Homo sapiens: one gene and its partners. The main gene of each other region encodes a partner of the protein of the gene in region 4 in a complex. Each region holds a gene or a part of one and is shown on either strand. Other genes may lie near its edges. A codon is read from its position in the direction of its gene.

Region 1 (6,934 bases), on a different chromosome or scaffold from region 4:
CAGGCATGGGAGCTTGCCCAGCTCAGCCCTGCCAGGTCTGACGCCCTTTCTTGGCTCACCCCTAAGAGAGGAACAAATGCTTCGAGATGTCGTCCTTTGTGGAGACCAAGGCCATGGAGCAACTGACCAAGAGCCCCATGGAGTTTGTGGAGTATCCTTTGAAGGTGCTGTGGGCGGGCAGGCCAGGGTGGGGCGCTCGGAGGCCGGCTCCGGTGTTCTGTCCCCACATATGCCACCTGCACAGGGTGCTGGCCCTCCGGCGGCCCTCCTGCACCCTGGCCTGGGGCTTGGGCAGATCCAGGCAGTCTCAGGGGGCATGGCTAGGCTAAGAAACAGAGGCCGGGTGTGGGGGTCACAGGAGCACCTGGCTGAGGCCGGAGGTGGAGGCTGATGGGGTGGGCCCTGGCACCTGTGTGGCCCCTGACCACCAATCTCAGATACAACAAGCAGCAGCTCAGCCGCATCTACCCCAAGGGCACCCGCGTGGACTCCTCCAACTACATGCCCCAGCTCTTCTGGAACGTAGGGTGCCAGCTTGTTGCGCTCAACTTCCAGACCCTCGGTGAGCCCTGGCCCCCTCCATCTTGACCCCGACCCTCAGTCTTACTGACTTCTGACCCACGATCCTGCTGGTCTTGCCTGAATGGACCTCTGACCCTGTCTCATCCCAGATCCCAGGGGAACCCAGCTCCCGACTCACCCCGCCTCCTGCCCTTGGCTGATACCAGACCCCTCCCCTGTCTGATCTGTCCTGGATCCGGACCCTGATGCCATTTGAGCCCGCCCCTGACCCTGGACCTTGGATGCCATCTGACCTGATGATCTCCCATTCCCCACATGGCACCGTCCTGCCTGATCCCTGCCCCTGCTCGACGTGCCCGTGGCACCCCAGATGTGGCGATGCAGCTCAACGCGGGCGTTTTTGAGTACAACGGGCGCAGCGGGTACCTGCTCAAGCCGGAGTTCATGCGGCGGCCGGACAAGTCCTTCGACCCCTTCACTGAGGTCATCGTGGATGGCATCGTGGCCAATGCCTTGCGGGTCAAGGTGGGGCTTGCGGGCGGCTCAGGCCAGGGGTGTCCTGGGGGCAGGACTCTCAGCATCCGCCTCACCCTCCTTGGCCCACCCCCAGGTGATCTCAGGGCAGTTCCTGTCCGACAGGAAGGTGGGCATCTACGTGGAGGTGGACATGTTTGGCCTCCCTGTTGATACGCGGCGCAAGTACCGCACCCGGACCTCTCAGGGGAACTCGTTCAACCCCGTGTGGGACGAAGAGCCCTTCGACTTCCCCAAGGTGAGCCTGGCCCCTGCACCCGCCCAGGCACAGGCAGATCCAGCCCAGACCGCCCCGACTCTCAGGTGGGAGAACAGGAACCAGGCACACCGTTGGCGACTGGGGATCAGAAAGTGGGGGGTGCCATGGGTCCCCCAGGACCTGCCTGTCCGAGCGTCAGTCTCCCTGCCCTCCTTAGGGTAAGAGACCAGGGTGAGAAGGTGAGATGGGGGTTGGGGGGTGTCAGCTAGACGTCTTGTGTCCCCTGCGAGGAGTGGACACAGCCTACCCTGTCTCCGAGGCAGGAGCTGAGGTCACAACCCCAAGCTCATATCCGCTCTTCAGCACCCCGCACGGCCCTGCATGGACGCGGCCTCTGCTCCCAGCCTGGGCATGTGTGTTCTTGGTTTCCTGCTCATGACTCACTCCCGTTTCTAAACTGGCAATGACCAGAACTGTCTGTGGGGGCCCTGGAGGGGCCTGGCTGCCTGTCATCTTGCCTCAGGGTCCTGATGGCTGCAGTCATCCATTAGGCCAGGACATGGAAGTGGGGTCAGCCATCAGCTTAGTGGCAATGGTGACTGATGGTCAGTAGGTCAGCTCGTCTGAAGGTCTGCTTTGTTAAGCTTTGATGGCTGTGGTTAGCTGTGGCCTGGTAGCCACAGTGGCCCAGGGTCAGCCCTGTGGCTCAGCTCCAGTCTGGCCCACAGGTGGTGCTGCCCACGCTGGCTTCACTTCGCATTGCAGCCTTTGAGGAGGGGGGTAAATTCGTAGGGCACCGGATCCTGCCTGTCTCTGCCATCCGCTCCGGTGAGGCCTTGGTGGGCTCTGGGCAGCACAGCGGGCAGTGGGTAGGGCCCCCACCTGGCCCAGCAACCCAACGTTGCCTTCCTGACCACCCAGGATACCACTACGTCTGCCTGCGGAACGAGGCCAACCAACCGCTGTGCCTGCCGGCCCTGCTCATCTACACCGAAGCCTCGGACTACATTCCTGACGACCACCAGGGTGAGCTGGGGGTGGGCGGGGCCTGCCTGGCCAGGGAGTGTGAGGGACAAGGGCCACCCCCAGGGCCTGGGAGTGGCCGAGCTGGATGGCCCCGACTGAGTAGGGAACTGAGTAGGGAACAGATCTGAGGACAAGCTCTGGAATTCCTCATTGAGACCAGAGGTGGCGGGTGGGGGTGGCCTGGGGGCTCTGTCTCTGAGACCTTGGCCTTCTGCCTCCCCCCAGACTATGCGGAGGCCCTGATCAACCCCATTAAGCACGTCAGCCTGATGGACCAGAGGGCCCGGCAGCTGGCCGCCCTCATTGGGGAGAGTGAGGTGAGCCGGGGCAGGGCAGGGCTCAGGCTCACTGTGACCCAGGGGGCCGCTGGACATGACTGCTGTGGCCACATGAGGAGGGGGCTTCTGGTCTCTCTAGCGCAGTAGGCTTGGCAGCCCTGGGATTTTGAGGAGATGAAAACCACCCATTTGCATTCAGGAGGCCTTCAGGTCACACCTGGGCTGGAATTCCTCCAGCTCCATGTAGGCTTGGAGTGGGGGTACAGGGGTCTCAGCCACTTCATCAGGGCAGTGCGAAGCCACAGAAGCTGTTCAGACGTGGTGTCCTGGGAGTCATGAGGAGGGCAGTGGCTTCCGTGGGGAGGGGTCAGGCACGGAGGTTCACCTGCGCTTCCAGATCCAGTCCCCCCAGGGCCTGCGGCAGGCGGGCGGGGAGAGATGACTGCAATTAGGGCTGCCTGGAGCTGTTAGCGGAGAGGCTGGTGCCCACTCTGCGGTTGAGTCCTCTGTTGATTTAATCAGGAGCTCAGCAGCAAGGAAAATGAGCGACTGTAGGCAAGGCTGGGGGACACAGGCAGGGGAGGAGAGGAGGCTTGGGGCTGGGCCAGGCCTTTCCAGAACAATCTGGGAGTTACTGAGCACATGCAGTGGGCTGGCATTATGTTATCTTCCCCACAGCCCATGTGGAAAAGGGGTTTAGAAAGGCTTGATTTATAGCTCTTCTCATGCAGACAGCCTCCTGTTACAGAGCAGTCCAGCAGTGGCTTGGACTAAGGGAGGCTGACAGGGGTGCTAGGGGACCCAGGAGGTGGTAGAGGACAGAAGGGTCTGGAGGGAACAGCATTTCTGAAAAGAGCATTCTCCTTTCTCCCTATAGGCTCAGGCTGGCCAAGAGACGTGCCAGGACACCCAGTCTCAGCAGCTGGGGTCTCAGCCGTCCTCAAACCCCACCCCCAGCCCACTGGATGCCTCCCCCCGCCGGCCCCCTGGCCCCACCACCTCCCCTGCCAGCACCTCCCTCAGCAGCCCAGGTAAGGAGTGGCCTGGGTCGGGGGTGGGCTGCAGGGAGGCACCCCCCACCCTGTCCTCCAGCTCCTCACAGGGCCTCTGCTCCCCAGGGCAGCGTGATGATCTCATCGCCAGCATCCTCTCAGGTAGGGGGCGGGGTACCTGGAGGCAGGGGGCTGCCTTGCAGGTTCCCCCACCCCCCGCCCACCTTTGCTCTGCCGCTCCCAGAGGTGGCCCCCACCCCGCTGGATGAGCTCCGAGGTCACAAGGCTCTGGTCAAGCTCCGGAGCCGGCAAGAGCGAGACCTGCGGGAGCTGCGCAAGAAGCATCAGCGGAAGGCAGTCACCCTCACCCGCCGCCTGCTGGATGGCCTGGCTCAGGCACAGGCTGAGGGCAGGTGCCGGCTGCGGCCAGGTGCCCTGTGAGTGTCTGGGCCGCCTGTGTGCTATGTGTGCTGGGTGTGCTGATGTGAACATGGGGGTCGGTGGGCATGGAGAGATGGCAAGAGCTGCTCCTTGACCCCCAGGGAGGAGGGTTCAGTGCAAGGATGGAGGAGGCTTTCCACACCAGGCGTCCCTGTGTCCCCCAGGGAGTGACATCTCTTTTGAAGTCCATGAGGAGCATGTTGCCCAAACAGGCTCCCATCACTTGGGTGGAGCTAACAGGCCTCCTGGTTTGCATAACAGACCTGGCCCCATGGGATGGTGTCTGCCATCGCTTGCCAGGATGTGCCCCCCTACACACCCTCCCCATCCCAGTCCATGTGACGGGCCCAGGCATCACCCAGAGGGGTTCTCCTCGCAGAGGTGGGGCCGCTGATGTGGAGGACACGAAGGAGGGGGAGGACGAGGCAAAGCGGTATCAGGAGTTCCAGAACAGACAGGTGCAGAGCCTGCTGGAGCTGCGGGAGGCCCAGGTGGACGCAGAGGCCCAGCGGAGGCTGGAACACCTGAGACAGGTAGGGGGCCTGCAGTGGCCAGGGAAAGCCTGCTGGATAGACCCGTCGTCAGCCCGGCATCACCTGTCAGCTCCCTGTGTCCACAGGCTCTGCAGCGGCTCAGGGAGGTCGTCCTTGATGCAAACACAACTCAGTTCAAGAGGCTGAAAGAGATGAACGAGAGGTGAAAGCCGAGGATTGTCTATGGGAAGGGCTGGGGACTTCTAGTACCAGAAGGAGGGCAGAGTCTGTGCTTCTGCCGCTGACCCCTCCTCTTCCCCTGCCGGCTTCTCCAGGGAGAAGAAGGAGCTGCAGAAGATCCTGGACAGAAAGCGCCATAACAGCATCTCGGAGGCCAAGATGAGGGACAAGCATAAGAAGGAGGCGTAAGGGCACCGGGACCGGGGGCCATCTGGGTACTGGGGAGGCAGGGCAGGTGTCTGGGCCCCGAGCCATCCTGCGTTGCTCCCGTGCAGGGAACTGACGGAGATTAACCGTCGGCACATCACTGAGTCAGTCAACTCCATCCGTCGGGTGAGTCAGGCTCCCGGGCCACCCTACCCCACCTCCCTTCCTTCACTCATCAGACACCCATCTCCATGCCTGGCCTGGTGCCACGTTGCCCTCAAGGTTCTTCTAGGGCCTTTCTCAAGTGCCCAACAGCCCCAGGGTACCCACATCATACCCAAAGCCAACTGTCTGTACCAGTGTCCCTGGCTTTGGCGTCCTTGGGCCCAGTCCTCTCACAACCCTGATACATTGCCCTGGGAGCCTTCGCCCACCTGACTTCTTTTTCTTTGAGACAGAGTCTCACTCTGTCGCCCAGGCTGGAGTGCAGTGGCGCGATCTTGGCTCACTGCAACCTCTTGGGTTCAAGCAATTCTCTTGCCTCAGCCTCCCGAGTAGCTGGGATTACAGGCATCCGCCACCATGCCTGGCTAATTTTTTTATTTTTAGTAGAGATGGGGTTTCACCATGTTGGCCAGGCTGTTCTCGAACTCCTGACCTCAGGTGATCCGCCCGCCTTGGCCTCCCAAAGTGCTGGGATTATAGATGTGAGCCACTGCACCCGGCCTCGCCCACCTGACTTCTATACCCAGCCAGAGCCTCGAGGCTCTAGCCCCTCCCTCAGGGCCCCTCAGCTGAGCCCTTGCCCACCCCTGTAGCTGGAGGAGGCCCAGAAGCAGCGGCATGACCGTCTTGTGGCTGGGCAGCAGCAGGTCCTGCAACAGCTGGCAGAAGAGGAGCCCAAGGTGAGGCCATGGGCGAACAGGTGGGCAGACGGGGTGCAAGGCAGCCAGGCCTCGCCTGTGATGCCCATCCTTCTCCCACAGCTGCTGGCCCAGCTGGCCCAGGAGTGTCAGGAGCAGCGGGCGAGGCTCCCCCAGGAGATCCGCCGGAGCCTGCTGGGCGAGATGCCGGAGGGGCTGGGGGACGGGCCTCTGGTGGCCTGTGCCAGCAACGGTCACGCACCCGGGAGCAGCGGGCACCTGTCGGGCGCTGACTCGGAGAGCCAGGAGGAGAACACGCAGCTCTGAACTGGCTGAGCGAGGTGGCCACAGGGCCAGGGCGGGCGCTGGGTGGAGGGCAGGAGGCAATGACACTAATGCTTTTTTTTTTTTTTTTTAACTTTTTATCTAGAAATTTTATTTTTTTAAACCCGGGGCAAGTACCTCAGCTAACTCCCTTCATCCTCCTGGGGCCCCTCCTTCCTGCCCTCAGTCTTAGGTTAGGGCCTTGGTCAGGGCTTTGCTCCCTGTGACACCCACACCCTCGAGCTAGCAGCGTCTCCTCCCTTCCCCGGGAGAGCTGGCTGGAGACTTGGAGCTCCGGGAAGTAGGAGTCACATTTTTTTCTCTATTCTTTGGGGATTTTTTTTACATGAATAAAAGTGGATTTCAGGGACCCTGTGTGCAGTGTGATTTGGGGTGACAGGACTCTGGGCCCTAAGTTTCCTCATCTATAAAATGGACTTTGGGCATTTGGTGGGGTTGAGGTCACGCCTCCAGCCAAGGGCTGCTGGGTTGAACCTGAGCTTGCCCTGCCGAGTCTGCTGAGCTTCCGTGGCCTTCTGCTTGTGCCCTCTGCCCCCAAGCCGCTGTTCCTGTTCCCCCATCCCCATGACTTTCGTCTCTCCGAGGCTCTCCCTGTTCTCTCTTTTCTGAGGCTCAGGCCTCTGCTTCAGGAAGCCTTCCCTGCCCCGCTTCCTGTGGCCTGATATGACCCAAACGCCTAGTATCTTCCGCTGGGGCTGCTCTGGGCCCCCGACAGGCAGTTGACTCTATCAGGTGATGGATCGGCCAGGGTGGAGCAGGGCAGCTCAGAACCTGCCCAACACCGGGGGACCTGGGTCTTCAGAAATAGGTGGGCAGTAGGCCTGCCTGTGACTCTGGGGGAAGGGAAGTGGACAGTCACAGACACGCAGGGGCT
Region 2 (7,040 bases), on a different chromosome or scaffold from region 4:
ATATTTCGGCTTATATATTTTCCCACTCTTTATTACATCCATGCACAAAATATGTATTCACAAATACAGAAAATATGTTTGTGCAAGTATGGGATTATATAAGCACATCAGTATCATGTCAATACATATAAAACATTTTTAATGACTCCAAAATGTTACAGAAGGATGCATCAATTTTAAAATTAGTCCTTTGTTGATAGACATGTGGTATTTCCATTTTTTTTTTCCCCCTGAGATAGAATCTCACTCTGTTGCCCAGGCTGTAGTGCAGTGGCACGATCTCGGCTCACTGCAACCTCTGCCTCCCAGGTTTAAGTGATTCTCATGCCTCAGCCTCTGGAGTAGCTGGGACTACAGGCGCACACCACCACATCCAACTAATTTTTGTGTTTTTGGTATAAACGGGGTTTCGCCACGTTGGCCAGGCTGATCTTGAACTCCTGACCTCAAGTGATCCACCTGCCTCAGCCTCCCAAAGTGCTGGGATTATAGGCATGAGCCACCGTGCCTGGCCAAAGTTTTGTAATATGACAGAACACTGCAATGAACTGGAAGATAGGACTTTAAATTTGATCCTTTTGCTTGCTTTGTAGTTACTAAATAACCTTGATAGATGATGTTTTAGTAAATCTGTATTTGACTTTCTTATGGTTTTATTAGCTTGGCAAGTGTTGAAGAAAACAGTTCATTCTGAAAGAACACTTCTGAAAATGTACTAAAAGTTTAGCTAGGGAGGGGCACCCCACAATTGAAACCTTTATTTTTCAGTCTGTGCTCCCAAAGATTGGGAGCAAAAAAGGACATTTGGGGTGAGGGGATCATAGAGAAGAGAGGGTGAAAGGAAGAGAACTAATGCAAGTAAAGTGCTTGTTTTACACTTGGTTTGATGGGGAGGTTGGGCCACAAGAGGAGTATACTTAAAATAAAAATTAAATTAAAAGTTTTAGGCCAAGCGTGGTGGCTCACGCCTGTAATCCCAGCACTTTGGAAGTCAAGGCGGGTGGATCACAAGGTCAGGAGATCAAGACCATCCTGGCTAACATGGTGAAACCCTGTCTCTACTAAAAATACAAAAAATTAGCCGGGCATGGTGGCGGGCGCCTGTAGTCCCAGCTGCTTGGGAGGCTGAGGCAGGAGAATGGCGTGAACCCGGGAGGTCGAGCTTGCAGTGAGCCGAGATCGTGCCTCTGCACTCCAGCCGGGGCAACAGAGTGAGACTCAGTCTCAAAAAAAAAAAAAAGTTTTACACGCAGATTTTCCCAAAATTGTGTAAATCAGAAGGGTCTAAAAAAAAGTGAAAATCTCTCATTCTTTCTGGTCTCCAATCTCAGCACAACTTCTCGGGTTTTGTTTGTTTGGTTGGTTGGTTTTTTTTTTTTTTTTTTGAGATGGAGTCTCGCTGTGTCGCCCAGGCTGGAGGGCTGGAGTGCAGTGATGTGATCTCAGCTCACTGCAACCTGCGCTTTCCAGGTTGAAGTGATTCTCCTGCCTCAGCCTCTCAAGTAGATGGGATTACAGATGCGCGCCAACACCTCCAGCTAATTTTTGCATTTTTAGTAAAGCCAGAATTTTGCCATGTTGGCCAGGCTGGTCTTGAATTCCTGACCTCAAGTGATCCGCCCGCCTTGGCCTCCCAAAGTGCTGGGATTATAGGTGTGAGTCACTATTCCTGGCCATCAGCTCAACTTCTCTATGCACAAATGATTTATAGGAATAGAAGGAGCATACCGTACTGTACATACTGTGCTATGATTTATTTATCTTTTTTACCTAATCGATTCATAGTCAGTTTATAGAAATCTGTACAAACTTTTTTTTTTTTTTTTTGAGACGGAGTCTTGCCGTGTCGCCCAGGCTGGAGTGAAGGGGCGCTATCTCAGCTCGCTGTAAGCTCTGCCTCCCGGGTTCATGCCATTCTCCTGCCACAGCCTCCCAAGCAGCTGGGACTACAGACGCCCGCCACCATGCCCGGCTAATTTTTTGTATTTTTAGTAGAGACAGGGTTTAACCGTGTTAGCCAGGATGGTCTCGGTCTCCTGACCTCGTGACCCACCTGCCTCGGCCTCCCAAAGTGCTGGGATTACAGGCGTGAGCCACTGCGCCGACCCTGTACAAACTTTTATAGGGGGGTAATTGAACTAGTCCTCCCCACCACACCCCCCCCCCCTTTTTTTTTTAAAGAGACTGGGTCTGGCTGTCACCCAAGCTGGAGTGCAGTGGCAGGATCATAGCTCACCCCCAGCTAATTTTTTTTTTAGACGGAGCTCCCAAGTAGCTGGGGCTATGGCTAGGTTGCCACTATGCCTGGCCTGAACTACTCCCCTCTTCCCGCCCATCCCCGAACCCCAGATGAAGTCTTGCTCTGTCACCCAGGCTGGAGTGCAGTGGTGTGATCTCAGCTCACTGCAACCTCCGCCTCCCAGGTTCAAGCCTCCCAGGTTCAGCCTCCCAAGTAGCTGGGATTACAGGTGCCCGCCACCACACCCAGCTAATTTTTGTATTTTTAGTAGAGACGGGGTTTCACCATGTTGGCCACGCTGATCTCAAACTCCCGATCTCATGATCCGCCCGCCTTAGCCTCCCAAAGTGCTGGGTTTACAGGCGTGAGCCACCCTGCCAGGGCCTGAACTACTCCCCTTTTTGATAGATGTTGAAATTAACATTGTTTTACCATGCTAAACAATGTTCCAGTGAATATTCTAGTACATAAAATAGCTTTGTGCACTTTAGCTGGTAGGTGCAGGGCAAATTCCTAGAAGTAAATTGCTAGGTCATATGGCAAATACATTTAAAATTTTGATATGTTTTGCCAAATTACCCACCAAAAATATTATATCAATTTATATTCCTTTGAGATACAAAATTCAAATAATATAGAGAGGTGTAAAATAAAAAGAAAAGTTCTCTTGTCCCCAGCTATTCTACTCCACAGAGCCAGCCACTTTTTATTGTTTGGTGGATATCCTTCTAGACTTCAGATTTTGCAAATTGTACATTATAATTTTTTTTTTTTTTTTTTTTTGAGACAGAGTCTCACTCTGTTGCCAGGCTGAAGTGCAGTGGCATGATCTCGGCTCACTGCAACCTCTGCCTTCTGGGTTCAAGCGATTCTCCTGCCTCAGCCTCTGGAGTAGCTGGGACTACAGGCGCGTGCACTACACTTAGCTAATTTTTGTATTTTTTAGTAGAGATTGGGTTTCACCATGTTGGTCAGGATGGTCTCGATCTCTTGATCTCAGGATCCACCCGCCTCGGCCTCCCAAAGTGCTGGGATTACAGGTGTGAGCCACCATGCCTGGCCAGTTTCTTTTTTCAATTGACTGTATATTGTGGCTGTCTTTCCATTTCAATATTATTGGCTACTATATTGTCTACCCTTAGTAGTAGGGACTACGTCAGGGACATGCTAAGTTAGGAATAGAAATAAGGAGCTGTTTGTCTGTAACTGAGTGGGGGGATGCTGCCTTGAGCATCTGTGAGTGTGTATTTTCACACACTTGGGCAATAATTGTTTATTACAGCCCTAGAAATGGGAATGTAATTGTAGCCAGGCACTTTATTTGTGTTTAAACTTCATTTGTGCATTTAGTCTCTCCTCAACTCTGTGAAATAGAAATGATTTTACCTGGTTGACAATTGGGAGCTGGGATAGCATCGGTTCTCTAGACAAGCTCTGTGAGTTTTGGTGAGTGGTAAGGACCCTGTACAGAGTCAGAGCAAATGCACTGGGCAAGGGCTTCAGGGACCTTCGAGTAGCATCTTGACATTTACCAGTGTTATAGAACAGTTAATATCAACAATAGTTTTGATGGAGACCATTAAAGGTTATGTGTTGAAATATTCTAAGAAAAAGTTCCTTTTTAAAAAAAAATTGTTATATTGCCATTCCTTGCTCCTTTTTTGGTCTTTATTTTAGCATTCTTATTTAAAACAGATTTTGAGCACTCTTTATGTGAGCTTTCCTGACTTGGTACATGCTTATTTTTATGGAGAATTTTAATCTTATAGAAATATACTATTATAGTGAATTAAGTGTATCCACCACTCAACTTCAATAATTATTAACTGTTGGCTAATCTTGTTTCATCTATTCCCAAACTCACCTCCCACTCCTCTTCCCTGTTATTTCTTTTCTGTTTTTTTCCCTTTCCTATGATGCCAAGCCTGTGTTTTTTTTTTAACAGCTTTACCAAGAATTCCATATCAGATAATTTGCACACCATACAATTCACCCCTTTAAACTGTACAATTTAGTGGCTTTTAGGATGTTCATAGAATTATTCAACCATTACCACAATTTTAGAACATTTTTATTACCCTGGAAGAAACAGTTTAGCTGTCATTCACCAATCTTCTGGTCTTAGCCCTTGGCAAACACTAATCTACTTTCTATTTATGGATTTGCCTATTGTAGACATTTGATAGAAATGGGATAATGTGTTGTCCTCTGTGACTGGCTTCTTTCACTTAGCATAATCTTTTGGAGATTCATCCATGTATCTATGTATCAGTACTTTTTTTTTTTTTTGAGACAGAGTCTTGCTCTGTCACCCAGGCTGGAGTGCAGTGGTGCAATCTCTGCAACCTTTGCCTCTAGTTTCAAGTGATTCTCCTGCCTCAGCCTCCTGAGTAGTTGGGACTGTGGGCCCACACCACCACCTCTGGCTAATTTTTGTATTTTTAGTAGAGACTGGGTTTCACCATGTTGGCCAGGCTGGTCTTGAGCTCCTGACCTCAGGTGATCTGCCTGCCTCAGCCTCCCAAGTACTTGATTTTTGAAAACAGCCAAATAATATTCCATTGTATGGATATACTGCTTTTTATTTCTTTTCAATTGTTGATGGACATTTGGATTGTTTCCACTTTTTTTTCCTTTTTTTGAGACAGGGTCCTGCTCTGTTGCCCAGGCTGGAGTGCAGTGGTGTAATCTCTGACCTCCTAGGTTCAAGCTGTCCTCCTGCCTCAGCCTTCCTAGTAGTGGGACTACAAGTGTGCACCACTATGCCTGGCTAATTTTGTAAAATGTTTGTAGAGATGGGGTTCTGCTCTGTTGCCCAGGCTTGTCTCAAATTCCTGGCCTCAAGCACTTCTCCCATCTCATCCTCCCAAAGTGATAGGATTACAGGTGAGCACCACTGTGCCCAGCCCACTTGTTGACTGTGGGCTGGGCACAGTGCTATATTATAATGCTGCTATGGCTGGGCGTGGTGGCTCACGCCTGTAATCCCAGCACTTTGGGAGGCCGAGGTGGGCGGATCACAAGGTCAGGAGATCGAGACCATCCTGGCTAACACTGTGAAACCCCATCTCTACTAAAAATACAAAAAAAAAAAAAAAAAAAAAAAATTAGCCAGGCGTGGTGGCAGGCGCCTGTAGTCCCAGCTACTGGGGAGGCTGAGGCAGGAGAATGGCATGAACCCGGGAGGCGGAGCTTGCGGTGAGCCGAGATCGCGCCACTGCACTCCAGCCTGGGCGACAGCGAGACTCCGTCTCAAAAAAAAAACAAAAACAAATAATGCTGCTATGAACATTTGTGTACAGGTTTTTGTGTGGACTCCTGCATACCTGGGAGTGGAGCTACTGGGTCATATAGTAACTTTTTTTTTTTTTTTTTTTTTTGAGACGGAGTCATGCTCTGTTGCCCAGAGTGCAATGGCACAGTCTAGGCTCACTGCAACCTCCGCCTCCCAAGTTCAAATGATTCTCCTGTCTCAGCTTCCCGAGTAGCTGGGACTATAGGCGTGTGCCACCACACCCAGCTAATTTTTGTATTTTTAATAGAGATGGGGTTTCACCATGTTAGCCAGGTGGGCTCAAAACCCCGACCTCGTGATCTGCCTGCCTCAGCCTCCCAAATTGCTGGGATTACAGGCGTGAGCCACTGCGTCCAGCCATATAGGAACTCTTTAACCATTTGAGGAACTGCCAGATAATTTCCCACAATAACTGTACCTTTTATTTTATTTTATTTTATTTATTTTAAATAGACATGGTTTCACTCTGTCGCCCAGGCTGGAGTGCAATGGCGTGATCTTGGCTCATTGCAACCTGTGCCTCCCGGTTCAAATGATTCTCCTGTCTCACCCTCCCAAGTTGCTGGGATTATAGGTGTATGCCACCACACCTGACTAATTTTTGTATTTTTAGTAGAGATGGGGTTTCACCATGTTGGCCAGGCTGGTCTCGAACTCCTGACCTCAGGTGATCCACCCACCTCGGCCTCCAATAGTGCTGGGATTAGAGGTGTGAGCTACTCTGCCCAGCCGTGCACCAGTTCGTATTCCTACCAGCAGTGTCTGAGAGTTTCAATTCCTGTGGTTGTGAAATAAATCTCAGATATAATTTCATCCTAAAGTATTTTAGAATGTATTAATAAAGTATGAGGGATTTCTTTTTCAAATATAAACATAATGCCATTATAGTATCTACTAACATTAATTTTTAATATAATCAAATATTCAGTCAGTATTCAAATTTCTTTCTTTTTTTTTTTTTTTTAATATAGAGACAGGGGCCTCACTCTGTCACCCAGAGTGGAGTGCAGTGGCACAATCTCACTGAATCATTGAACTCCTGGTCTCAAGTGATCTTCCTGTTTCAACTTTCCAAGTATCCAGGACTACAGGTGTGCGCCACCATGCCTGGCTAATTTTTTTTTTTTTTAATTTTTTGTAGAGACACGGTCTTGCTATGTTGGCCAGGCTGGTCTCAAACTCTTGGCCTCGAGCAATCCTTCCACGTCAGCCTCGCAAAGCACTGGGATTATAGGCATGAACAACCGTGCCTGGCTTTGTGTTCAAATTTCTAATTGTCTTATAAATGTTATTTTAGGCCGGGTGCAGTGGCTCATGCCTGTAATTCCAGCACTTTGGGAGGCTCAGGTGGGCAGATCACTTGAGATCAGGAGTTCGAGACCAGCTTGACCAACATGGTGAAACCCCATCTCTACTAAAAATACAAAAATTAGCTGGATGTAGTGGTGTGCACCTGTAATCCCAGCTCCTTGGGAAGCTGAGGCAGGAGAATTGCTTGAACCTGGG
Region 3 (2,830 bases), on a different chromosome or scaffold from region 4:
CCTCCTGCTGGCTGTGGCTTGCATGCCCTTCACCCTCCTGCCCAATCTCATGGGCACATTCATCTTTGGCACCGTCATCTGCAAGGCGGTTTCCTACCTCATGGGTGGGTGAGACAACCACCCCACCCCCACTTGCCACTCTCCCCGCCTAAAGCTCTTGTGGATGTAGGGGTCTTCCCCGGTTGGCAGGGAGGGGTGTGAGGAAGTCCCACTGATGCTTGTGTAGTGCAAGTTTCCTAGGTGACTCCTTCCTTTCTCTTCCCTTGTTTAGGGGTGTCTGTGAGTGTGTCCACGCTAAGCCTCGTGGCCATCGCACTGGAGCGGTACAGCGCCATCTGCCGACCACTGCAGGCACGAGTGTGGCAGACGCGCTCCCACGCGGCTCGCGTGATTGTAGCCACGTGGCTGCTGTCCGGACTACTCATGGTGCCCTACCCCGTGTACACTGTCGTGCAACCAGTGGGGCCTCGTGTGCTGCAGTGCGTGCATCGCTGGCCCAGTGCGCGGGTCCGCCAGACCTGGTGAGCTTGCCCATAAACTATCCTAGGAATTCCTTTCTCACCCCTATTAGATGCTTACGACCATTGCCCAGAATCTTCCTCCAGCTTCCCGGAGAATTACCACGCCAACTCCTATTCTGCATCCACCACCCTGGAGTTCCAGTTTGGGGCCCCTCCCCAGTTCTCTCTCCCTTCCCAGCGGCACCCCCAAATCCTACTCCTACTTCAGGTACCTGGCCACAGCCCTAGAAACACTAGTCCTTGGCTTTTTCTCCATCTGTGATTACAGCTGGACAGAAACCCGAGTGATCTGTCTGTGTTGCCTTCAGGTCCGTACTGCTGCTTCTGCTCTTGTTCTTCATCCCGGGTGTGGTTATGGCCGTGGCCTACGGGCTTATCTCTCGCGAGCTCTACTTAGGGCTTCGCTTTGACGGCGACAGTGACAGCGACAGCCAAAGCAGGGTCCGAAACCAAGGCGGGCTGCCAGGTGGGGCTGGACCACGTGAGCAAAATCTGGGCGAGGCGGAGCTTTGGAGGGCGACGGGGCCTGCTGGAGTGGGTGGGACTGAAATGAAGGTGAGGGTGAGAAGGAAGCTGGAAATGGAGTTGAGCTGGGAGCGGAGGTCAGGTGGGGACTGGGCTGGAGACTGGGGGGACTCGCCTTTTTCTCTGACCGCCCACCCTTTGTGCTCAGGGGCTGTTCACCAGAACGGGCGTTGCCGGCCTGAGACTGGCGCGGTTGGCGAAGACAGCGATGGCTGCTACGTGCAACTTCCACGTTCCCGGCCTGCCCTGGAGCTGACGGCGCTGACGGCTCCTGGGCCGGGATCCGGCTCCCGGCCCACCCAGGCCAAGCTGCTGGCTAAGAAGCGCGTGGTGCGAATGTTGCTGGTGATCGTTGTGCTTTTTTTTCTGTGTTGGTTGCCAGTTTATAGTGCCAACACGTGGCGCGCCTTTGATGGCCCGGGTGCACACCGAGCACTCTCGGGTGCTCCTATCTCCTTCATTCACTTGCTGAGCTACGCCTCGGCCTGTGTCAACCCCCTGGTCTACTGCTTCATGCACCGTCGCTTTCGCCAGGCCTGCCTGGAAACTTGCGCTCGCTGCTGCCCCCGGCCTCCACGAGCTCGCCCCAGGGCTCTTCCCGATGAGGACCCTCCCACTCCCTCCATTGCTTCGCTGTCCAGGCTTAGCTACACCACCATCAGCACACTGGGCCCTGGCTGAGGAGTAGAGGGGCCGTGGGGGTTGAGGCAGGGCAAATGACATGCACTGACCCTTCCAGACATACGAAACACAAACCACAACTGACACAGGAAACCAACACCCAAAGCATGGACTAACCCCAACGCACAGGAAAAGGTAGCTTACCTGACACAAGAGGAATAAGAATGGAGCAGTACATGGGAAAGGAGGCATGCCTCTGATATGGGACTGAGCCTGGCCCATAGAAACATGACACTGACCTTGGAGAGACACAGCGTCCCTAGCAGTGAACTATTTCTACACAGTGGGAACTCTGACAAGGGCTGACCTGCCTCTCACACACATAGATTAATGGCACTGATTGTTTTAGAGACTATGGAGCCTGGCACAGGACTGATTCTGGGATGCTCCTAGTTTGACCTCACAGTGACCCTTCCCAATCAGCACTGAAAATACCATCAGGCCTAATCTCATACCTCTGACCAACAGGCTGTTCTGCACTGAAAAGGTTCTTCATCCCTTTCCAGTTAAGGACCGTGGCCCTGCCCTCTCCTTCCTTACCCAAACTGTTCAAGAAATAATAAATTGTTTGGCTTCCTCCTGAACTTCCTTTCTGGATTCTTCTGGGGCAGGTGAGGAGGCATAGGATTTTGCAGTATCCTTCTGTCGGGTCTCTCCCACTGTTGCACACTGCTGTGCACAACCCCTTGCCAGAAAGCCCAGCCTCTGAGGTTCAGCGTGGCTGTGCATATTCTTTCTGAGTTTTCATCCTCTACCTACATTCCAATGTTGCAATAACTGTGAATGGGGATGGAAAATGGCATATCCATGACATATCATGATTCCTGATCACATTATCCCAAAGTGGTGCCACTGTTAAGGTACTATATTAATGGATGCTTATTAAATTTTGATGAAAAGATAAAAGAGGAAGCACTGTATAATAAGACTAAGTTTATTCAATGTGTGTTTGAAACACCAGAGATCAGACCATGACAGGTATACAGAATGAATACAGTTAATTAAAGAGTAGGGATTTTTTGCTGTACTCTCTTCCCCAGTGTCAAAACCTGGCCAAGATTCTGCCAAATGGAAGCACTTTTAGTAGCTACAACAAAAAAAGA
Region 4 (5,255 bases):
GTTGGAGTAACAGGAACAGGTTTTGCTTTTGCTGTGGCTTAAAGTCCCCACAAAAGTACCTATTTTCCAGAAAGCCACTTGCCACCATCACCTCCACTTAATAAAACTCCCAGGAGCAGCTGATTTTTAGCTGACCTCAAAAGCCTGGATGTGTTTCTAAAACTCAGAGAGGACACCTGTGACATGTCATTTTTCCCATGTGGAGTCTACCTATTCACTGCCAGTGTTGAAATGGGCAAAACTCTTAAGCCAGCCATTGGCCTGAGTCCAGTGTGCTACCCAGTAAACCAGGGCAGATGTGTGGATTCTTTTTACTGATTGGGAGACTGCCTCAGGTTGAAGATTGCTGGCTCCTTTCTTTATTGGATAGGTATTTACTTTTTTTTTTAACCAGTTAATTATAACCTAAATTAAGGCAAGTTTTTTCAAAGAGCAAATTTGATAAATGCTACCAATATGTGTATTTCCACTACAGGAGACTCTTATTTCTGATTATACACAGAAGGGAAAAGGTTTTTTGGTGTTTTTTTTTTTTTGAAACCATTAAACTTGTTTATTTTGGAAAATGCAATATGCACAAGGTGTGTTAAGGAAGGAAAGATGTATTTCAGTACTCCTACTAATACAAAACATTCTGAGAGGGGCTCGGGCAACTTTAATGGAAGCAAAACTCAACAATGAAGAATACTATAGTACAAAATTATGGCCAAAAATACTGTATTTTTAACCAGCAAGATCATTGGGGCATTATTATACAACATTAGGTGTTTTTTGCAAAACTAGTTCCCATCCCCAAACAATAGACAGTACATGCATTTGAATGACATTTTAGGAACAGTAAATATTCTTTTAAATACTGCAAGTTAAAAATGTTTTCTGACAAAACTCCCTAAATACATAGGTCTAGTAAGGGTTTCCAACAGGATGATGGGTGAGGAATCCAGCAAGGAGTTGCATTTAGAGAGTTCTTTGAGGAAAAGAAATCCACCAAAAACGTGTTTCAGTCAAAGTAACCTGGACAAAGTTACGTAGTATTATTCCAGCTTTCTTTCCTGAACTTAAAAATGTTCTACCAACGAATACCTTTCTGTTTTTTCTGTCTACCAAAAGCTTATATAAAAGTCAGAATTTCTTTATCCAAGATCTGATTTTACCCAATAGATGTTTTCATAACATGTAAATGTCATTTGCTATATTGGGTTGGAATCATACGGGGAAATGGAGGACACAGGGTAGATAAGGAAGGCAAGGAGGAAATTAATATTTGAGCACCTACTATGTGCTAGGTGTGTATTCATACTTTGAACATATGATTCTAGAGGCAAGAGTGTTATTGAAAGGGCAGTGATCATTGGGAAGACAGCAGGAAATGGCTATTCTGTGAGAAAAACAAATGACAAGTTTAGGGTCTGTACTAAGTTATCTACTAAACAGCAGGTGTCTGGCTCCAAAAATCTCTAGCTAATCATATACAACTAAGCCATTTCTTTTCCTAATTTGATGGAACCAAAATGAAATCCCAAAGACACAGTTACCAGGACAGATCTATTAACGCTACATATGCTGGAAATATGTAGAGATAGATAAACATACAATATTACTAGTTTTATTTTTTTGTGTTTCTAACCAAAGATATATCTTTGGAAGAAAATATTAATGTATACCAAGCACACCTTATTTGTATCAATTGAGATGTTGATTACCAATTAAGTGGTTTTAAACCCTTATTTAATTTGAAGAAGAGCAGCAATATACATTACAATATTTGGGTACACTTTATTTTTATATGGGTTAACATTCTGCTATATTTCATTTCATTCGTTTTGAGAAACTGAAAACAAAGGGAAATCAAGGGTAATCGGTAGGTGATTTGAGGGAAATTTCCAACCAATATGTGAGTCTTGCAGTATTTCATTATACAGCCCTTTCTTCCCATTATTTATTTTTTTGCAAATAAGTCATTTTGACCCAAATCCAGCATAAATAGCTTTTCACCAATTCCTAACTTAAGACAACTAAAATTTACAATCATGTGGCAGTATAAATTTTAAAATTACAGTTCGTACACTTTGACAATCAAGATAGTCTGAAGTACAAAAAAGTAAATTGCCCTTTAGCTGAATTACCTTTTTAAAATAGGCCTGCTAGTTAATCTACCAAAAAAAAAAAAATACAAGTTTTACGTGTTCTTCAGATTCCTTTTGTAGTTGTCATCTGCTAGTAAACAACATATGCAGGTTCTTAAAATTTTTTTTTCCAGTCTATTCATGACATTCAACAGAGCTCTTTATATGGAAATGTTAAAAACAAAAACTTCTAGGAGATTTATTTACTTTTGAATGGGTGTGTTATTTCCCTTTGTTTCAGATATGAGGCACAAACTTCTGAATTTAAGCTCTGTAAGGCATAGTAGAAACTTCCAATTTACAAATAAGGAATTCTCTGGGGGTTAGAACTGCCATGTCACGCAAAAAGGGAAAAATCATCTGTAAACTGGTACACTGCAATGTGTTAAGTGAGTCATGAAATGGCTGCTTGCCTTGGTATGCTGAAGAAAGGTTTCTGTGTTTTATGTTTTTGTTTTTGAATAAGACATGCCCAAGTCACCATAAAACTCACCACAGGCCTCCATTACCTAAGCATCAACAATAGGAGGCCAGTGGCACACGCTTATAACGCTTGCAATCACAATATAATATAAAGCATGAGTAAACTTTGTTTTTATACAAAACTGAAAAGAATCCCGTCCCGCCCCTAGCCCCTTCAATAAAACCCCGAAGAAACAAAAAAGAAAATCCTTTAGCTTCGATTGACTGGTGTGGCTAAAATTAGGTTTCTATGCATCACTGCTGCTAGGGTGATCAATTTTTTCCTTTCTCAAGAGAAGGGATCTTGTCATGCACCCTACAGGAACAGCGAAGCCACAAACCTCAATTCTGCATAGCAAATTCCATCCCAATTTCATAAAGACAAATATAACAATCTTTCCCTGTTTTGCTCAGCTTCTTCAAGCTTTGAGATCAGGTTTAATTGACTACATTTACTATAGCTCTATTAAATAGAATATCTTGATTCCCTAAAACTGTAACACTTATGATCTTGTGATGAGGTTTTCTCTATACACACTGTAGGCCTTCAAATGTTGTTGTTTAATTTTTTTTTTTTTTTTTTTTTTTTTTGCTGCACCAAATTTAAGAACGCCCTTTCAGGCAAGCAGTGGTCTCTAGCTGTTAAAACATTTCCTTAGTGGATCACAATAGCTTCTAAAACTGCCTTTCTAGTAAAGGCCATCAGAGAGGTAATACTAAACTGTGCATTTGCCAAATAAGAATATGAATTGTATAAAAGCTCATATTCCAATCCTAGATCAAATGGCAAAAGTTCTACAAAGTTGGTTTCCATGTTTGTATAAAAGCTCCGACTGATTTTATGTATTTTGCTATGAAATTACCTTTGGGTCTTATAATCAGTATACCTCTACTCAGGAATGTGCAAATGATTTTATACAGCACGACGCTAGTACCGCTCTGTATGACAGTAAGGTTTTTTTTTTTTCTTCTTTTCTAAATGGAAAGAAAATATCCCTAGTCAGAAATAAACTGACAAATTTACATTCTCCTCTCTTAAAAAAGTAAATAAAATAACATTATTCAAAACGTGAATTAGCTATAGACATACAATACAATTACATAGATACATATCAATACAGCACATTCAATCTGCCAAAAAATTAATGATTACAAAGCCAGTATGGATGCTGCAATATCAAGAGAGATGTATGTACAATGATTAGAGCATTTGTAATTGCACTATACCTACAGGCAGTCTGTTTGTTAAATTACAGGTACTTTCTGAGCAAGGGAAAAAAAAAGTAAGCTGTGTTGTTTGAGGCTGGGAGAATCAAGGATGAGAACATCTCATTACTGTTGGGCGGCTTTGGTACTCATTTAACAGGCCGTGATTTTTCTCCCTCCCCCTTTGTTGTTCCAAAAGAGTGATTTATATGGAAGTTTACACTAGTGCCAAATACCACTGTAGTTAAAATGAGACCAGTATCATGGCCTAATTCTAACGTCCCAGCAGCTTTGAACAATCATGATTTATTTTCTTAAATCAAATTTCAACTCAAGCTGCTTGACAGAAGCTTGTCAATACATGTGCTGTATTTTTTTTGCATTTGTTGAAAAATTGCACATATAGAATTCCAAACATTTCTCCTGGTAGGTTCAGTTACACAAATACATGTTCTATAGAACACTGAGAGGTTACTTTTGAGTTAAGTCCACAAATCTTCCATAAGTTCAACCTAATCAGTTACCAGTTCAAGAAGATCATGAAGGTGGTAAACTAGCAGGAACTTCAGATTTTGGAAATTAAAGGTGTCGGAATAATACTACCAACCAATGTTCCTGGCAGACTTCATTGAACTTAAAGAACCACTGAGAGTAAAACTGGTTTCAAATAAAGAGACATAAACAGATTTCCTGTTAAACCACACAGGATACTTTTTACATTGCCGGTTTGGACACTGAACATGGGACGTGAACACTAACAATGTCATCTTAAGGACAAAGAAAAGAATGGACCGTGAGAATCAAATTTCTAGTTACAACTGTTTGGCAAATGGCATTTCTGGTTCATTCTCAGCCAGTCATTTTAGGCTTCACAGTCTTACTCTCTTACATTTTAAGATACCAGCTTTTATTTTTTAAGTTCGTATTCATTTTATTTGACAAAAAGCCAGCTTTGGCAACACATACCCATAATAAAAGTCATTTTAAAATCGTGGCCCAAACACCAAGAAAAAAAAGAAAGGAAAAGCTTGAACAACAACAACAAAAAAATTAAGAACAACCTATAAAAAGGTTCTGGGTAGCAGCCATTAGGGTAATGTAGTGTCTGTTGGCATCTTTTTTGGCATCTGCAATTGAAAGAGAGGGTAAGAAAAAGAAGCAAAGAAGGGAGGAAAGACAATGGCACGTGGCATTTCAAAAGAAAGGACTCCTGTGTGTCTTTGATCCTGCCTTCTGCATATTTCTCTGAGCAATCAAGCTATGGCTGAAGGTAAACATCTAAAAGAAATGACACTTAACTTTTAGATGGGCATCCACTGTCCCAGTCCAAAGTGAGACAAGACAGTATATTCTATTAAAAAAGAAACTATGTGTGTATCCAAAGCAACACATTTAAAACCGTAAGTATTAATACATATAATCCTTCAGCAAAAACTACAAACTTAAATTAAGCTGATGATG

Evidence for each region.
Region 1: the proteins of GNAQ (region 4) and PLCB3 are in contact, whole or in part, in a cryo-EM structure (PDB 8UQO), measured with the Homo sapiens proteins. Residues at the interface, in NP_002063.2 of Homo sapiens: Pro185, Thr186, Thr187, Ile189, Glu191, Pro193, Arg202, Gln209, Arg210, Ser211, Glu212, Arg213, Arg214, Lys215, Trp216, Ile217, His218, Val240, Glu241, Glu245, Glu249, Glu250, Ala253, Leu254, Arg256, Thr257, Ile258, Thr260, Tyr261; in NP_000923.1 of Homo sapiens: Pro257, Arg258, Leu259, Asn260, Glu261, Val262, Leu263, Arg707 (codon at 973), Asp709 (codon at 979), Lys710 (codon at 982), Ile719 (codon at 1,009), Asp721 (codon at 1,015), Gly722 (codon at 1,018), Ile723 (codon at 1,021), Val724 (codon at 1,024), Ala725 (codon at 1,027), Ser845 (codon at 2,254), Asp846 (codon at 2,257), Tyr847 (codon at 2,260), Ile848 (codon at 2,263), Pro849 (codon at 2,266), His852 (codon at 2,275), Tyr855 (codon at 2,509), Ala856 (codon at 2,512), Ala858 (codon at 2,518), Leu859 (codon at 2,521), Ile860 (codon at 2,524), Asn861 (codon at 2,527), Pro862 (codon at 2,530), Ile863 (codon at 2,533).
Region 2: the proteins of GNAQ (region 4) and F2RL1 are in contact, whole or in part, in a cryo-EM structure (PDB 9D0A), measured with the Homo sapiens proteins. Residues at the interface, in NP_002063.2 of Homo sapiens: Arg37, Ile323, Tyr325, Asp346, Ile348, Leu349, Gln350, Asn352, Leu353, Glu355, Tyr356, Asn357, Leu358, Val359; in NP_005233.4 of Homo sapiens: His108, Pro109, Ala110, Met114, Gln172, Arg173, Val176, Ile177, Pro180, Met181, Gly182, His183, Ser184, Arg185, Met265, Met268, Leu269, Met274, Asp275, Asn277, Lys280, Lys281, Arg284, Ala285, Leu288, Ile289, Tyr344, Tyr345, Val347, Ser348.
Region 3: the proteins of GNAQ (region 4) and CCKBR are in contact, whole or in part, in a cryo-EM structure (PDB 7F8W), measured with the Homo sapiens proteins. Residues at the interface, in NP_002063.2 of Homo sapiens: Arg30, Arg34, Asp35, Arg37, Arg38, Leu40, Ser198, Val199, Phe341, Lys345, Asp346, Ile348, Leu349, Gln350, Asn352, Leu353, Lys354, Glu355, Tyr356, Asn357, Leu358, Val359; in NP_795344.1 of Homo sapiens: Thr87, Val88, Thr89, Asn90, Glu151 (codon at 319), Arg152 (codon at 322), Ala155 (codon at 331), Ile156 (codon at 334), Pro159 (codon at 343), Leu160 (codon at 346), Ala162 (codon at 352), Arg163 (codon at 355), Val164 (codon at 358), Trp165 (codon at 361), Gln166 (codon at 364), Thr167 (codon at 367), Ile241 (codon at 897), Leu245 (codon at 909), Gly248 (codon at 918), Leu249 (codon at 921), Val331 (codon at 1,374), Leu335 (codon at 1,386), His394 (codon at 1,563), Arg396 (codon at 1,569), Phe397 (codon at 1,572).

The regions. Positions count from the first base shown.
Region 1 is NC_000011.10:64,261,515-64,268,448, forward strand, and holds the end of PLCB3 (1-phosphatidylinositol 4,5-bisphosphate phosphodiesterase beta-3), read left to right. Parts: intron 1-66; coding exon 67-151; intron 152-437; coding exon 438-562; intron 563-671; coding exon of another isoform or gene 672-745; exon of another isoform or gene 746-852; intron 853-892; coding exon 893-1,047; intron 1,048-1,132; coding exon 1,133-1,294; intron 1,295-1,983; coding exon 1,984-2,083; intron 2,084-2,176; coding exon 2,177-2,281; intron 2,282-2,506; coding exon 2,507-2,598; intron 2,599-3,436; coding exon 3,437-3,590; intron 3,591-3,677; coding exon 3,678-3,713; intron 3,714-3,795; coding exon 3,796-3,988; intron 3,989-4,371; coding exon 4,372-4,525; intron 4,526-4,611; coding exon 4,612-4,688; intron 4,689-4,800; coding exon 4,801-4,890; intron 4,891-4,980; coding exon 4,981-5,038; intron 5,039-5,670; coding exon 5,671-5,757; intron 5,758-5,838; coding exon 5,839-6,042; 3' UTR 6,043-6,409; downstream 6,410-6,934. UniProt on the Homo sapiens protein: Catalyzes the production of the second messenger molecules diacylglycerol (DAG) and inositol 1,4,5-trisphosphate (IP3).
Region 2 is NC_000005.10:76,822,004-76,829,043, forward strand, and holds part of F2RL1 (proteinase-activated receptor 2 preproprotein), read left to right. Parts: intron 1-7,040. UniProt on the Homo sapiens protein: Receptor for trypsin and trypsin-like enzymes coupled to G proteins.
Region 3 is NC_000011.10:6,269,817-6,272,646, forward strand, and holds the end of CCKBR (gastrin/cholecystokinin type B receptor), read left to right. Parts: coding exon 1-104; intron 105-271; coding exon 272-521; intron 522-829; coding exon 830-987; coding exon of another isoform or gene 988-1,194; coding exon 1,195-1,727; 3' UTR 1,728-2,311; downstream 2,312-2,830. UniProt on the Homo sapiens protein: Receptor for gastrin and cholecystokinin. The CCK-B receptors occur throughout the central nervous system where they modulate anxiety, analgesia, arousal, and neuroleptic activity.
Region 4 is NC_000009.12:77,715,574-77,720,828, forward strand, and holds the end of GNAQ (guanine nucleotide-binding protein G(q) subunit alpha), read right to left. Parts: 3' UTR 524-5,255; downstream 1-523.